Linked DNA regions of Homo sapiens. The protein of the gene in region 2 interacts with the protein of the main gene of each other region in a biochemical or structural test. Each region holds a gene or a part of one and is shown on either strand. Other genes may lie near its edges.

Region 1 (2,906 bases), on a different chromosome or scaffold from region 2:
GATTCTCTAAATGCATGGAGAATACACACCAAACCTAGGGCTGTACTTAGCTGTGGAACAGGTGCAAGATGGTGTGGGGGTGGGGAGGCAGACTATTGCTTGAACATTTTTAATGGTGATAGTATTAACATTTAATTTTTTGACAAAATTTTAAAATCCTTTATTTGTGCTGATAAAGCATGTTAAATACATTAAATCTATTTACACTGTACAAAGCTTTTAAAGTTCTAAAAATCAGATTTTTATCTAAATGAATAAATTTCTCTGTATTGTTAAAACCATTCTACTTAACTGCATTGTTCTCCAAGTCCCTCCAGCCAGGAGGCACGGTAACAATGTGTCAGATCTCCACACTGAGACACCACCTTCCCAAGATCATGGTACATCAGCAGCAGAACTGAGACAAAAACTGGAACAAGGACCACCTTGCTCCTACTGCATTATAGCTTTTGATAGTATTTGCTACTTGAAGAGGAGGCTATACCTTGTCTAGCTCAATACAGTTTATGTTTCAGACACTATAAGTATGATACCCAAATGCTTCATGAGTGAACAAGGTCAGCAGATCACCCTGAGAACAAGGAAGACACAATTTCCTTATAGGCTAATGATTATAAAAATAGAAATTAAGAGCTCCCCAGAAACAAACCACTTAGTCAAAAAGGAAGGAGTTTTGACTTTCTTCTAAGCCAAGTACTCAAGTTTAAGACTTATTGGCCTATTTAAAAATTCTTTCTATGACTTCTAAACAATGATGGCAAAGTGACAAAAATAATGTAATCATCTTCTTCCCTCATTATATATAAACCAAACTAAAAACAAAAGAAATGAACAAGCTATAATCCAAAAAAAACTAGAAAATCCTGACAGGAATCATATAGAACATCTCTAAGAAAAGGATTCTTGGCTTAAGCAAAATATTAGAGCAGAGAAAGCAAAACTCATGTCCTCTCATGCAGTCCGGCAAGGCCCCCCTGCCCAGAACCCTCCTCTCTGAGTCACATGGATGAGCAGACAGAAGATCTGGACACAGCTATCCATGTTAAGCATGAGAGAGATGTAAAGAAATAGCAGGGTAGGAGGGCAGGCATACTACAGAAAAATGAGAGAGAGGAAAAGAGCATGCCAGAGAATACAAATCCAAGAAACAAACTGCACTAAGACAGCTAAGAAGAAATTTCAGGAATACGATGAATTTCGGAAAACAACACTTCAAAGATGAGATGATAAAATCATCCTGAGAAGGAAACAAGAAAAACATGGGTAAGAAAATAAACTGAGGATCAAAGCAACACCATCACAGAACCACAAACACATAAACAGTAGTGAGATACAAACAGCCTTGGCTGGAATCCAAACCGCAGAAACAAGAAAGCCCGTCGCAAGGAATGCAAAGGCAGGCGCAAGACGAAGGCAACTGGAGAGAAGACAGCCTGCCAGCCTGCAGACAAGAGAGGCCTGGAGTGGTGTCACTTCATGGTAACAACGGCTGGGTCTGCTGTGGGCTGCAGTGATGTTTGTGTGCATGCATGTGTGTGGTTTTTATGTACCTACTTTTGGCTTTAATTTGATTTTTTTTAATGATAACACATTTTGTGACTGTAGGAGAGAAAAAGATGCCCTCTGCTTAAAGGAAAGCCAGGGTAAACTGAATACCCTACAGCTTTCCACAAATACATGTCTTATCATTTATTACCATACTATTTCATGCTTTACTAATAAAAATACTCACCAATTTACCAGTACCTTGAAAAGAGGATCTTTCCAAGAAAATTAATATAATTATCAAACAACAAATAACAAACCTGACCTTTGTGGGTGGCAAATGGTAAATATAAATGTTTAAAGTTTAAGCATCAAAATAATGCTGTTATCAGATATTGATGAACTTATTGAACAGGTCTGACTGAATGTAAGACCTGTTTTTAGCACCAATAAAAAAAAATATTGAGATTTCTGTTCTGCAAACTTCTAACTGTGCTCCCTGACAGCATCTTTTGGGTAAAGGAACAAATGTGCTCCAAGGAGTAACTGTTAGGTACCTGATTTACAATATAATTAGATTGCCAAAAAAAAAAAAATCAATCCAAGTATTTTCTCCTTTAGCTAGCATTATTAAAACTTTTAACTTTCAGAGAAGAGTTTCTTCTTCCTTAAAGTTTTAATTCTGAGGTAGACATCATGCAAACAAACATCAAGTGCAGCCAACTTCCATTGACAAACATGATTATTAATAATAAATTAATAATCAGAAATGCCCGTTAGAAAAAGGGACTTGAAAGTTTAGGAAGCAATGTTGTTTAGCAGTATTCTGGCTTGAGTTTCCAAATTCCTTCACCACCAGAAGTTCTATGGAAAGTGCACAGATTTCTCAATAGTTCTCGGAAGACACAAGACTGTGATGCAGATAACTTGGATTCAAACTCCTGCAGTATCTCCCTGGTGCTGGCCTGGCCATCAGTGTGGGCCTGGAAAGCGATGAAGTTTCTCATCTCCACCAGAAGGTCATCGTGTTCTGTGGTGGGCAGCAGGGCAGAAGCTTCCTGCAGGTGCCCGCTTTCACTTTCTAAACGCTCTGGCAGAATCAGGTGGTTTCTAGCTCTCATTTTAGCCAAGAGTGAGGAGGAAGCGAGGGGCCCGGATGAAGAGTCTGCATCTTCTGCTCTTCCACTAAAATGCTCAGGGACATTATCTTTTCCCTCCTTTTTCATGATGCCATCCTATAAAAAGAAGACCACTATACTGATATATTTAATTTCTAGTTTATGCCCCCACTTCCTTCCCCAAAGGCTGTGAAGGGTCACAAGACAACACATGTGCCAGGGTGGTGAGGTTGACAGGGTGAGACTGAGACTCCACCTAATGAAAAGGGAAAGGAGGAGGGTCTGGTATCTAAATCCTCCCAC
Region 2 (3,830 bases):
GTTTGAGCTCTTAAATCAAGGTCTAAAACAAAACTTATAACTCCTTTGTTAATTTCAAAGAAGCAGGCTTAAAGCATTTATTTGCTATTAAATCACAGTTGAAACTCTACTGCAACATTTTGTCATACCCACTTCTGTTTCATTACAATACCTCAATACCTCAACTCTCTTTCTGGAAAAATTTTAACATGACAAATTATTTTATAAGTATGTATTTCGAGATTTTGGTACTGATATAAATGTATCACAGGGGCAGAAAAATAGGATATCATGGAGCCCAATGTTTCTATCAACTAGGGCTTTGTATCACCATATCACAGAAGGACAAGAACATGGCTTTTAAGAGTTGAAGCTTAGTTCAAACCTTGATTCCATCATTTAACAACTGTGTGATCTTAGGTTAGTTAATTTCTCTGAGCTTGTTTCCTCAGCTGTAAAATGGGGACAGTAATGCCTAATTCATAGAATTACAGTAAAGATTAAATCGGTTAATATGTAAAATGCTGGCAGAGTATCAGGCCAACAGTAGGAGCTACACTTTCTTCCTTCCCACTGGGAAAATTATGAACAAAATAGTATTTTCTCTATTTTTTCAAACACCTTTTTATTGTGTACTACTTTTATACTTACAGAAAAGTTGCAAAAATAGTACAGAGAAATTTCTGTCTATCTCCTACTCTGCTTTTCCGAAGAGAAACATGTTACAGAACTATAGAATAATGATCAAAACCAGGAAATTATCACTGGTGGCCGGGCACGGTGGCTCACACCTGGAATCCCAGCACTTTGCGAGGCTGAGGCGGGTGGATCATCTGAGGTCGGGAGTTCGAGACCAGCCTGGCCAACCTGGTGAAACCCCATCTCTACTAAAAATACAAAAATTAGTCAGGCGTGGTGGCAGGCGCCTGTAATCCCGGCTACTCGGGAGGCTGAGACAGGAGAATCGCTTGAACCTGTGAAGCGGAGGTTGCAGTGAGCCAAGATCGCGCCACTGCACTCCAGCCTGGGTGACAGAGCGTGACTCCATCTCAAAAAAAAGAAAAAAAAGAAAAGAAAAACATTATCACTGATACTATACTATTAACATACAGACCTAATCAGAATCTTACCAATTCTTCCAATGTTCTTTTTCTACTGCAGGATCCTACTTTCTTTTTAACTAGCTTGGCTCTATGGAAAACATTTCTTGATTTACACCACTTTTTATTAACAGTTTTCAAATGAAATTTAATTCAAAATCAACTTTTTGTAAATAATAGTATGCCTATAATATACAACATGCCCTATGAATGGAATTACGTTGGTACTTAATTAAAACAGTCCTGAAAATACAAAAATTCAAAAATTCCTGAGCAAAACAAGAAATGTTCCACCACATTTCTATAAAACACAGTACAGGTATTATAATAAATTTTTATTTTTTTGAGACAGGCTCTCACTCTGTCGCCCACGCTGGCCTACAGTGGTGCAGTCACAGGTCACTACAGCCTTGACCTGGCTCAAGTGATCCTCCTGCCTCAGGCTCCTGAGCAGCTGGGACTACAGATGCCTGGCTAATTTTTGTATTTTTTTTTTTTGTAGAGGAGGGGTTTTGTTATGTTGTCCAGGCTAGTCTCTATCTCCTGGCTCAAGAGATCAGCCGGCCTCAGCCTCCTACAGTGCTGGGATTACAAGTGTGAGCCCCCATGCCCGGCCAATATTTAAATTCTTAAGTGCCATATATTCAAAAAATATTGGGGTTTAACTTGACTTTGTAATCATGTTGAATGAAAATAATTCATATTTGGTCCACAAATAACAATAAATTGGTATAGTTTGAACAGACCCCCTTCCTGGCAATAGTCCTTTAGTGTGGCAATGGTAATCTTAAAAGTAGTACTCCCTTCATAAGATCTGACTCATTTTATTATAAATAAGCACAGACCTTTGAAAATATATTTCTACTCCTGTTAATACAACGAGGCAAGATTATGCAGGTACTATTCTTATTAATGTATCTTTTATAATGCAGCTTTGGGAAGTCAATGCTAAGACAACATAGACTCTGAAAGAGAAGGAGATATAATAACATTTTAAAGAAACACCAAAACTCAAAAACCATAATGGAGTGAAGCTCTTTACTGGGGTGGCAGACAGCTCTTTATTTATATCCTGCCTTGGTAGAAAAACAAGAGTGTGGCACATAATTTAACCTTTCCCCAGTGACTCAGCATCACTATTATAAATATCAGACAATTTGCTGTGACACTGACTCATTGTCAAAAGGTTAATTATGTCCCAGGTGCTTCATTCGAGAAGCAAGAAAGGTGTATAACAAAAGAGTTTAATCAGAAATGTTTCAAATACAGCAGACTTCTGAATTTAACAGAAATGCTTCAGTTGATCTGAAAAATTAAGTTATGAAGCGAATATTTTCTCCAAAGAGACCAGAGACATTGGGTGTACTTATAATAACGAATTTGATCCATGACTTAAATCAGGTGGGAACTTGACTTTGGCATCTTTGCTTCTTTATCTATTCAAATCTAAATGTGTATGAAGACAGAGCTCTTCAAGGTCAACAACCACATCTGATTAATCTTTGTATCTCTCTTCCTGATCTTCCTTTGATCCTGGTACAAAGTACTATAATGCTCAAGAAATGTTACTGAACAAATGGAAAGAGGAGGACAAAGAACTCTATTTTCTCAAGAGACTAAGGCTTTACACAGAAAAAATAATAATATAGCCAAGAGAGTAAAATAAAAGTAAACCCATGGTTATTGTCACTCTGAGGGGTTAGGCTATGAACCAATTTTTCTTGATGTTATTCTATCTGGACTCCCAAGTGGAAGCTTATAGATAACCAGCCTTGATAACCGTCACTGGGAGGTGGGAGGTGGGGTCCTGTAATCTAATGCAGACTAGTCCAGATTATTTTTGGCTCCATTTAACAGCTCGTAAAATAATTTTCTGTCTTTTACCAGTTCTAAGAGTCTTTCCCACTGAAATGTACATCTCAGGGGAATGAGACAGAAGGCTCCTTCCCTAAGGAGCTGTGTCATCTTTCCCTTGGACTTGGGTCATTTATTCAGCAAACTGATGAACAGACAAGATACAAGGGTGGTGAGAAGCAGAATGGAGAAGAATCTTATTTTGTTCTTAAGTTTCAGAATTTCCTAGAGAAGTGGAAATTAACTGCAAAACACCAAAACAACCAAATATATTTTTATTTAAATGGACTCTTTTTTTCCATATCATCCCTCCTGACAGCCTCCACCACAAGCCTTTGAGTGGGTTTCCCAAAGTGCCTTTCATGGGACAGCAGTCCTTGTGAGTAACATCTGAATAATGTCAACCTACCTGTAGTCTACAGCAATACTGTGCAGCAGGCAACAGGTCTCTTATTTCAAAACGGGTGTCTGTCCCATGATAAATGAGTTCTAAGGATTCTTCATCTTCTCCCCATTCCAACCTGTACTCTGAGATGTCAGCACCAGAACTATCAGGACTCTGGAAAGGCAGAAATGGAAGTAGTTAATAATGCCACTGAGAAGAGAATCCTACTGTGCTTGTATTCAATTAACTAAAATGGGAAAGAGAGCAACATGCCCCAGAATATTTCAAATACATATAAAAGAAAGGCACGATCACAAATATATATACCTACTATGTACCCACAAAATTTTTTTTGAGATTTAGAAATTTAAAAATAAAATAGGGCCAGGTGCGGCGGCTCATGCCTGTAATCCCAGCACTTTGGGAGGCTGAGGTGGGTGGATTGCCTAAGATAAGGAGTTCGAGACCAGCCTGGCCAACACAGTGAAACCCTATCTCTACTAAAAGTACAA

What was found.
Region 1: the proteins of FNDC3B (region 2) and ERCC6 form a complex in vitro, tested with the Homo sapiens proteins (one large-scale study listed by BioGRID).

Annotation. Positions count from the first base shown.
Region 1 is NC_000010.11:49,456,515-49,459,420, forward strand, and holds part of ERCC6 (DNA excision repair protein ERCC-6), read right to left. Parts: intron 2,721-2,906; coding exon 2,301-2,720; 3' UTR 1-2,300. UniProt on the Homo sapiens protein: Involved in repair of DNA damage following UV irradiation, acting either in the absence of ERCC6 or synergistically with ERCC6. Involved in the regulation of gene expression.
Region 2 is NC_000003.12:172,346,874-172,350,703, reverse strand, and holds part of FNDC3B (fibronectin type III domain-containing protein 3B), read right to left. Parts: intron 3,493-3,830; coding exon 3,343-3,492; intron 1-3,342. UniProt on the Homo sapiens protein: May be a positive regulator of adipogenesis.